3 separate regions of the Homo sapiens genome follow, and regions 2 and 3 are each reported to be linked to region 1. Evidence: microRNA targets listed by miRTarBase, many of them from high-throughput screens and not tested one by one. Region 1 holds a microRNA gene; each other region holds the end of a gene's coding sequence.
Evidence for each region. Region 1 holds the annotated microRNA hsa-miR-3194-5p (GGCCAGCCACCAGGAGGGCUG, at 941-961, opposite strand). A microRNA usually pairs through its seed, bases 2 to 8, with sites in the 3' UTR of a target mRNA and lowers its output. Matches are read on the target gene's strand: a 7mer-m8 pairs with bases 2 to 8, a 7mer-A1 pairs with bases 2 to 7 and ends in A, and an 8mer does both.

Region 2: miRTarBase lists NUDT18 as a target of hsa-miR-3194-5p. Seed matches in the 3' UTR shown: 7mer-m8 at 838-844.
Region 3: miRTarBase lists KBTBD11 as a target of hsa-miR-3194-5p. The part of its 3' UTR that is shown has no 7-base or 8-base seed match.

What each region holds. Positions count from the first base shown.
Region 1 is chr20:51,452,008-51,455,007 of GRCh38, forward strand. MIR3194 (microRNA 3194) reads right to left here and starts at 970; the gene lies at 898-970. It overlaps NFATC2 (nuclear factor of activated T cells 2), which reads right to left. Exons shown (of 11, transcript NM_012340.5): 6 at 2,541-2,681.
Region 2 is chr8:22,104,708-22,108,057 of GRCh38, reverse strand. It overlaps NUDT18 (nudix hydrolase 18), which reads left to right. Exons shown (of 3, transcript NM_024815.4): 3 at 163-1,180. The coding sequence ends at 758. It overlaps FHIP2B (FHF complex subunit HOOK interacting protein 2B), which reads right to left. Exons shown (of 17, transcript NM_022749.7): 17 at 3,147-3,350. Among named protein-coding and RNA genes, the nearest start is that of NUDT18, 3.0 kb to the left of the region's middle. RefSeq lists enhancers at 1-298, 695-839 and a cis regulatory region at 767.
Region 3 is chr8:2,002,443-2,005,792 of GRCh38, reverse strand. KBTBD11 (kelch repeat and BTB domain containing 11) reads right to left here. Exons shown (of 2, transcript NM_014867.3): 2 at 1-3,350. The coding sequence ends at 2,729. Among named protein-coding and RNA genes, the nearest start is that of KBTBD11, 30 kb to the right of the region's middle.

The sequences.
Region 1 (3,000 bases):
CAACCCTTGAAAAGAACTGTCTTCCATGCAACTGGTCCCTGGTGCCAAAAAGGTTGGGGACTGCTGGTGCAGAGTCTTCTTGCCTAGAGCAGACTTTACCTTCATCATCTCTGATCCCTCAAGCAACGCTACTCCTCAGCTCACTCCTCAACTCACTGCCACCTGGGTACGTGTGATTCAAATCACCAGAGGCCCCCCAATCACTGGACTCTCAGGCTGACCTCGGGCTCTGTGACCTTCATAGCACTGCCTCTGCTGACCCTTCCCAAGTCTCCTTCCCCTGGTCTCCAGGGCACCAGACTCCCCTGGTTCTCCTCCTCCTGCTGTGACAGCTCCTCCTCTGCCACCTTTAAGGGATGTGGCTCTCAGTTCTCTAAGCCTCCCCTTCTCCCACTGGAGGCCATCCTGGGAGGTCGGAGCCAATTCCCAGGACTTCACCTCAGATCTCATTGCTGACAGCTCCCATGACAACATCTGCAGCCAGGATCTGGTTTCTTAGTCTAGACCACGTGGCCACATACCCACCAATCTCTTGCCTTTCCACAGAGGTGAGATCATGGTTCATCCAAGAAGGCCCATGGGTACATGAGACTCAACGCTTCCACTTCCAAAATGAAACCCGTCCTCCCTGCCCAACCTCATCCCCACACAGACCTCCTCTCCTGTGTGCTAAATCTCAGCTGGCCAAGTGCACCACGTGAACAAAACAATCTCGACACTCAACCTCTTCCCCTTCCCCATCCACAGCAGCTCCAGAAAAACAGCAGCAGCCCCTGCCCCTTACCGAGCACTTCCGGTGCTAAGCCCACTTGCTCTAATTCATTCAGACCTTACCTTTGTGGGTAGGCACTGTCACTGTCCCTGCTTTTCAGGGGATAGATGATGGAGAGTTTCCGCAGGTGACACTGCCAGTGAGCAGCAGAGCTGCCCGGGTGGCACGCAGCCCTCCTGGTGGCTGGCCCTGCCACCTGCGTTCTTAATGCCTCTCTACACCACTACGTCCCATCAAACCTCAGTGACATCTGCCTTCTAAACCACTCCCGACCCATCCCTGCATCTCCCTTCCCCACTGCCACAGCCTTACTTAATACCTTTTTTGTTATTTTTCGCAAAGGCGTCATCAAACCCTTTTAAAATAAATTCTGCCTCTTGTTATGCTTCCAACTGTGAGAATGCAGTTGTCACACCCCGGTCACATGTCCAGCCCATCCCAGAAGGATGATTTGTGCGAGACTGGAAGAAGCACTCTTTGCCTAAGACAGTCTGCTTCCCCCTGCCAGAAGTTGTCTTACTAACGTGTAAACTGGTGATGTATCCAATTTGAATGGCAGCCCTCAGAGGAGGTGCCCTTGTACAGTGCACAATCCCTCCAACTGGACAACTCACCTGTTATATTCTCGGATTGTTCTAAGGACAATAAACAAATAGACAAACATCAACACCCCTTTGAAGTAACCTACTGAAATCATGTCTGTTAAGGAAAAGGAAAATTGGTTCTAGTATCCAAAATAAGTGTCCCAAGTTATTTGAGCTAATTTCCTTCTAACAACACATTTGTTTCATTAATTATTGCTTAATCTGATATTTTCCTACTTCAGATCAGCATCTTTTCTACCACATACCCACTGAAAAAGACACCGATAGTACACCAAAGGAAGAATACACGTGGTGAATAAACAAAACATTATGCGTCTCAGAGCAAGGAAATGCAAAGTAGAAAGAAGTACCAATTCCACAATGATTCCTTTTTAATTTAAAAAAATGGCATTTCTGGGATGGGGGTGAAACTATGACTGACATGATGGCAACTTCAATTTGTAGATTTCTGGAAGGTAATTTAGCAATATGTATTTAAAGTCCTCAGAATGACTATCCAAAATTCCACTGCTGGGAATAAACCCTAAATAAACTAAAAAGATATACATATAGATTCATGTACAAGATTAATTAATCCTAGAAGTATAAGCTGATTCACTGCAGAACTACTTATAATAAAAATACAAGTAGCCAATATTAATTGGCTTATGCTGTACTTGGCACTATTATAATTACGTGACATGTATTAGCTCATTTAACCTCCATGACAACTTTATGGGGTAAGAAATTTTAACGGATAGGTAATATGCCTCGGATCACCAAGCAAGCAGATAACAAACCCAGAATTTGAACCCAAGATATCCAGGGCCAGAGTATGCATGCTTTATCACTGTGCTGTTTGGCCTCCCTTCTTGATAATAGCAAAAAGTTTTAAAAATTTCCTTCCTTATGTAAAAAAGTAATTTTAAAAAAAGGATTGAGGGTGGGAGATAATCTCATTTTCTGTCAAAATGACCTAGAAGAGTTAAAATGTAGAATGGCACATTCATGCAATGGCGAATGGTATGGCCATCACAATCCCTGAAGACACGCTGAGTAAAAAGAGCAGGGTATAAAACTGCACGGTGGGATCTACCCCCCAAAACCAAAGTTGTATATAATAAAGAGATGGTCACTTTTGCATGATTCTGGGGGACAGAGAAAGAGCTCAAAAATCCACTGACCTGTGGTCTTCTCAGTAAACACAACTTTGGACTCGGATGTAAAGTTCTGCCCCGTGAGGATCATTTGCTGGCCGCCATAGACCAGGCAGCTGTCTGTGTCTTGTCTTTCAACCATGGGCAGCTCGTGAGCAGATCGCTGGGCTGCAGGCAAAAGAGAGAGAAGTCACTGTGATAAGGGGAGATGTCTGTTCAAAAGAGGAGGTCTGATTTCATGGTACTGAGATATGACATGCTCTGCCCACCTGTGTCACCTGTTGTTATCTAAAATGTGGAACCATCACCCCTGACAATCAATGACGTACAAATGTTATGCCTTGTGAAAGTGCTCTAAGTCATTTGAGCTAATTTCCCTCTAACAACACATTTCGTTTTCATGAATCAAGGGACAGAGGCCTGTTCTCCTTACAGGAAGCCAGAGGCTGCCTGTTGTCCTTATAAGGAGAACAGGTACATGAGAATT
Region 2 (3,350 bases), not on the chromosome of region 1:
TCTACAGCCAGTCCTGTTATGGCTGGCACAGCCTGGCATGGGCAGATTCCAGCCTTTGGGCTGGGGGCCTCTCTCCTGGGTCAGGGATGTCTGTTGACTCTGCCAGAGCTGCACTTCTCTCCACACAGACCCTCCCTGCCCCATCCCCCACATCTCCCCCAGGTGGAATTCTCAAGACTTCCAAGGAGGCCGATGCGGAGTCCCTGCAGGCTGCCTGGTACCCACGGACCTCCCTGCCCACTCCGCTGCGAGCCCATGACATCCTGCACCTGGTTGAACTAGCCGCCCAGTATCGCCAGCAAGCCAGGCACCCTCTCATTCTGCCCCAAGAGCTACCCTGTGATCTGGTCTGCCAGCGGCTCGTGGCTACCTTTACCAGCGCCCAGACAGTGTGGGTGTTAGTGGGCACAGTGGGGATGCCTCACTTGCCTGTCACTGCCTGTGGCCTCGACCCTATGGAGCAGAGGGGTGGCATGAAGATGGCCGTCCTGCGGCTGCTGCAGGAGTGTCTGACCCTGCACCACTTGGTGGTGGAGATCAAGGGGTTGCTTGGACTGCAGCACCTGGGCCGAGATCACAGTGATGGCATCTGTTTGAATGTGCTGGTGACCGTGGCTTTTCGGAGCCCAGGGATCCAGGATGAACCCCCAAAAGTTCGGGGTGAGAACTTCTCTTGGTGGAAGGTGATGGAGGAAGACCTGCAAAGCCAGCTCCTCCAGCGGCTTCAGGGATCCTCTGTTGTCCCAGTGAACAGATAGAGAGGTGGGGGAGGTGACAGGGAGCTAGGCAGCCGTGCTCCCTCCAGTGCGGACTTGTCTCCCTCTGAGGGAGGCAAGAGGCTGGCGATCAGGGATCTTGTTGCATTGGGAGCAGGGGCGGCTCTCCTGGTCCCCAGGAGAGATGCTTTGAGGAGCATTCCTCTAGATTGCACAAGGGACAGTGCCTTTAACCAAGCGAGGAGTCCAAAGCTCAGGACCTGACTACCCTGAGGGCACGCTGACGCCTCTTCCCAGGGGGATGGGGAGCTTTCTGCACCCCCAGTGGCATCTCCTCATCACGTTCTGTGCCGTCCTTGGGAAAGGCCTGCATTCTGATCCTTCCAGGCCCTTCGAGCATGGAGGGGCACTGGGGAAGGTCCCCCGAGGGAGGAGCACGTTGCTGAGTAAAGAGGTGTTACTCACCTTGCCTCCCTGCCTACACGTCTCTGTGGGGAGAAAGTGATGGGGACTACTGTCCAGGAGCTGCTGCTCCCCTCGTGTTACCCACAGGCACCCATGCCTTTCCCAGTGCACTGACAGTGCGGGCCAGTCTGCTGTCCAGCACGGCCCCTGGGGCTCCCTCCAGTTGGCCTGCTGGCCCGGGATGTGACTCTGAGGGGACCCATCCCTAATGAAACACAGCTCTGAGCCCTCCAAGGGTTGGGCAGTGGGCGGCCCCAGAGGAACTTCAAGTGGGACAGGAGCTGCAGGTGCTGCCTCTGCTCTCTCCTTGAGCCTCCCTGGCGCAGACCACTCCCCCTGGCTCTCCTGCCTCTGCCTTTTCACAACTTCAGCCCATGCCAGACCAAACCTTTTCTTCATTTCCCCTCAGCCTCGCTGAATCATGGTAGGATTTTTTTTTTTTTTTTTTTTTTTTTTTGCTAAGTGGCCGGGCACAGTGGCTCACACCTGTAATCCCAACACTTTGGTAGGCTGACACAGGTGGATCACTTGAGGTCAGGGAGTTCGAGACCAGCCTGGCCAACATGGCAAAACCCCATCTCTACTAAAAATACAAAAAACTAGCCGGGCATGTTGGCAGATGCCTGTAATCTCAGATACTTAGGAGGCTGAGGCAGGAGAATCGCTTGAACCCCGGAGGCAAAGGTTGCAGTGAGCCGAGCTCCAGCCTGGGTGATAGACTTCGTCTGAAAAAAAAAAAAAAAAAAAAAGAACTTTGGCCAGGCACGGTGGCTCACACCTTTAACCCCAGTGCTTTGGGAGGCTGAGGCAGGAGGATCGCTTGAAGGCCAGAGTTTGAAGCCAGCCTGGGCAACATAGTGAGACCCTGTGTCTACAGGAAAAAAAAAAGGCCAGGCAAGGTGGTGCACACCTGTAAATCCCAGCTATTCAGGAGGCTGAGGCAGGAGGATGGCTTGAGCCCGGGAGGTTGAGGCTGCAGTGAGCCATGCTCAGGCCACTGCACTCCAGTCTGGGTGAGACAGCAAGACCCTCTCTCAAAAGAAAAAAGAAAAGAAAGAGGAAAAAAAGAACTTTACTGAAATTTAAGCAAAATCAAAGGAAATGAACAAATAAAATATATCAAGTGTTCTACGGTAGAGATTTCTGATTCTGAGCAAGGAAACACTAGCACAGGCTCCCCTTCTGAGGGCCAAGATGACCTCCAAGGCCCCTTTCCCAGCCCCCTCCCTGCCTCTCTTGGCTGCCCTCCTTTCTGGGCCCTGGAGGGTGGTAGGAATCCTTGTACCCTCTGAGGACAAATACCTCACAAATGATGGAACCAAACCCCTTTGTTTCAGTTCACTTCTCTCAGTGTCTAAGGGACCCACTGGCCCATATCCAGTCAGCCGGGCAATGACATTTGGCTATTTGCCCCCATTATTTAGCCTAGTAGTTTCCAACCCTGGGCACACGTTAGGGTCACCTGGGTTTTTTTTTTTTTCCCTCAAACAGGGTCTTGCTCTGTCACCCAGGCTGGAGTGGAGTGGTGTGATCCTGGCTCACTGCAGCCTTGACCTCCCAGGCTCAAGTGACAAGTGATTCTCCTGCCTCAGCCTCCCAAGTAGCTGGAACCACAGGCGCATTTTTAAGCTTTTAGTAGAGATGGGGTTCTCACTATGTTGCCAAGGCTGGTCTTGAACTTCTGTCCTCAAGTGATCCTCCCGCCTCAGCCTCCCAAGGTACTAGGATTATAGGCGTGAGCCACCATGCACAACCACCTGGAGAGCTTGAACTCTGGGTGTACCCCCAGCAACAATAATTTAACTGGTGATGGGGCACTGGGCATTGGGATTTTAAAAAGCCACCCAGTGATCAACACGAGTTGAGAGCCAACATCTGGCTCCTTTTCCTCCACGTTCTCAGCCTGCCCTCCCGCAGTCTCTTGGGGACCCCCCTCAGAGGATCCCCCACCCCTCCACACACATCTGAGGACAAAGGGTTTATTTATGTGTTAACTTTTCTTTTTCCCTGAGAACACACCTGTGAAATTTTTTTTTTTTTTTTTTAGACAGGGTCTTACTCTATTGCCCAGGCTGGAGTGCAGTGGTGCAATCGGCTCACTGCAGCCTTGAACTTAAAGACAAGGTTTTAAATATCAGGCCTACTTTATGACTAAAACAGGCATACAAC
Region 3 (3,350 bases), not on the chromosome of region 1:
CCCTGCGTATGGGTTAATTTCACGAGTCAGACATTTGGAAATGCCCCGGCATACGGGTTAATTTCATGAGGAGTGTGGACAGCTGTCATCAAGGCAATAGCCTCATCTAACTATTTTAATGGGTGGATGACCAGGAATATTTTTGCACCAACCTTTTTCCTACACAGTGTTGGACGCAGACTTAGAACACCACTTTGAATTGGAAAAGGTCCTACCTGGGGCATCAGCCGTTGCCAGGCAGTCTCAGCAATGCCTCTGCCCTCCCTGCAGCAGTCCCAAAATGAAAGCCACACCTTGGAGGGTGTGGCTTTTCTCTGTTTCATGGGTGCAAACCCTAGCGGCTCCACACCCCAGGGACTGGCCCCCAAAAAGCAAAAACACTGCTCATGGCGTGGCAGGTCCTCTAGTATGTATTTTTATGTGATATCACTATTCAGAACTGTGGTGTATACTATTCTATAAATTTCCACAATAGGTTGGCCGGACATCCTTTAATGGTGGGTATTAATTCCTCTTATTCTTTACGTTTCTTAGTGCATTTTGTTGTGAGGTGACAGGGAGCACCTGGGGCTTTGCTGCCGGGCCCCACAGGAAGCTGTGCTACATCTAGTGTGAGCATTCCTTCACTAAATGAAACGCTGGAAAGCCATGGGAACCGCACAGGACTGTGCAACCACCCCCATCCAACATCCACCACTTCTCATATCCTTTTCCGGGGACAGTGTTACTCTGGAAGCCTAATTTCAATATTTCATTTTCAAACAATAAACATTACAGGAATGATTTCACAAGTAAAATCACAGTGATAACAGCATATGAGTTTGATATTTAAGGACTGAAAATATTAGCCTGGTCCTGGTCCCATTTCATATAAAAATTTCTACCATTAATAAAATTCTAGAGGAAAAGGCAGGACAGTGTGAATGGTACATTGCTTAAAATGAACATTATTTGTTTCCTTTTGCTGTAAATACTGTTTCTACAACCATTTCTCCAGTATACTCCTATAAAAGGCCAATCAAGTCAGGCGATATGAAGTCTGTTTTTCTTTCCCAAGATGATTAACCAAGTTGCCAAGCTATCCCCTCAGTTCATGAGTAACCATGGGCAAGCAGACACGTCCCCAGAACATACCGTAACCCAGATCATAAATTCCAGCCCCCGAGTCATGCATAAGGTTCAAGCTGATCACTTCTAAACACACTTAACTGAGACCTCTCATAACCACAGACTCTTTAAAAAGCATAACCTATTTTTCAATTACCCACTGATTTCTACAGAGATGGCAGTTCCCATTACTGGATTAACAAACAAATAATATTAAAGTAGGCAGGATTTCAACTAGTTACGTTCCAGTAACTTTTCCTCTTACAGTAAGAAAATGGGTTGGATTCGGAGTTCAAATGTTCGCCTCTATTTGTGAGCATGGATCTCATCCTCAAAGTCATAATAGTAAGTCCTCTGTATACACACTTGAAAAGTAAAATGTTAAATGAGAAACGACCCAACTGATTTGTTTTTAATCCTCATACCCTGTCAATGCAGTGAGCCTCGTGTTAATTCTATTAGGGTATTTTGGAACTCAATTCAATACAATTAAATACATGCAGTTTACTTGCAAATCTATGGTGATAAGCACGTCACTTCCTTGTTATAAATCTATGCCCACTGTCACTCGGCCACACTTAGAATACTGATTGTAAAAATTAATCTCCCTCATCAGAACTACACGATCCACATTGAAAACATCATATACAGTGGGTTTAAAATGTGCCTACACTTTTTTTTATAGAACTGTCAAAGCAAAATGATTTTCCCCGCTTTTTAGGAATATTTTATCTCGTTCCAGATTATGAAAGCGGCTGGGCATACAGAGTGGACTATCAAAGATTGCTTTTTAGATAGACAAGCACCCTGGTAAGTTTTTCCTACTTATGATGTGCTGTTTGGTCACATTTAGCCACTGAAGACTTAAAATTTAAATAATGGTAAATCATCGCTACATCAGTTAACATCCTTTCAACTGAAAATATGAAAGCCCCCTCGGTCCAACAGTGAGACGGAGCTGCTCTAGGCATGTGAGTTTGAGTAGCAATGGTGTGGGGAAGGAAATACTTCCAATGCATATTGAACAAGAAACCTTACTGGTAATCAAAGATTTTACCTTTAATGCTTATTAAATTACTCTTTTTGGAGTTGAGCCAACCAAAGCGAGCACATGGTACGAAATTTTCAACTAAATCAGAAAGAGCTTTACTTATCAGTTATAATTTTAAATCTCAAGCCAAAAATAAAAGGCGTGACCCTCTCTGCGTGCTTCCCCCGATAGTTCGCGGCGACCTACTTGAGGGTCCCAGGCTCCTGCGCACAGCCTCGGTGCTCTGCGGGGTTCGGGACACCCCGGGGCCGGCTGCAGGCTGCCTCAGGAACCCCCACTGTACCCTGAGGCTGACCCTTTGGATCCCACAGCCTTCTCTGTGTCCTGTCTGTCAAGGGACCCATCCGCACACCTCCTGGGTCTCAAGGCATCCACCCCCAGAAGCAAAGACAAGCAAAAGGAAAGCAAAGCGAAAGCGGCCCTGAGAGCGTCCTCGGGGCTCCTTCGAAGTGTCCAAACCACCAGCGTGGCCAGCGGCCCCGACTCCCCACCACGTCCTCCTCCGCGGGCCCAAAGGGACCTGGGCCCCGCAAACCCCTGCCGAGGGAGACGCCCGCCGACCCCGCCGGCCTACGGGGCGCCCTGCTCCCCTCGGGGCGGCTTCTCAGGCAGGCTGAGAGCGAACGGGATGAGCACACCCCGGACGTCCAAGGGGGCGCCCAGCGCCTCGAAGCCGCCGCCCTGGCCTGCGTCGCCGCCGGCCTCGCCTTCCCGGGCAGGCTGGAAGCGCCAGGTGCCCGCGCGGCTCACGCAGTAGATGGCGCCGTCCAGGGCGGCGCAGCGGAAGGGCTGCAGGCCCGTGGGGCCGCCGGGGAGGCGCAGGGGCGCGACGCACGGGCTCCACTGCTTGGCCAGGCAGTGGTATCGGGACACGCTGACCCCGCTCGGCCCCGCCGCCTGCGCCTCGCCGCGGCTGCCGCTCAGATCGAAGCGGTAGATGAAGCCGTCGAGAGCCACCATGTCGGCCGAGCGCTCGCGGCTGCTGCTGCACGGGCACTCCTGCCACTCGTCGCGCCGCGGGTCATACTTGAGCAGGCGATAGAAGAGGGAGCCCCCGGACACGTAGATCTCGCCGTGGCAGGTGGTGGCCTCATGCGCCACGGCGAAGGCGCCCCGGGGCAGCGGCGCCACGGGGGCCCAGCGGTCGGCGCGCGGGTCGTAGCGCTCCACGCTGAGCAGGCACTCGCCGCCC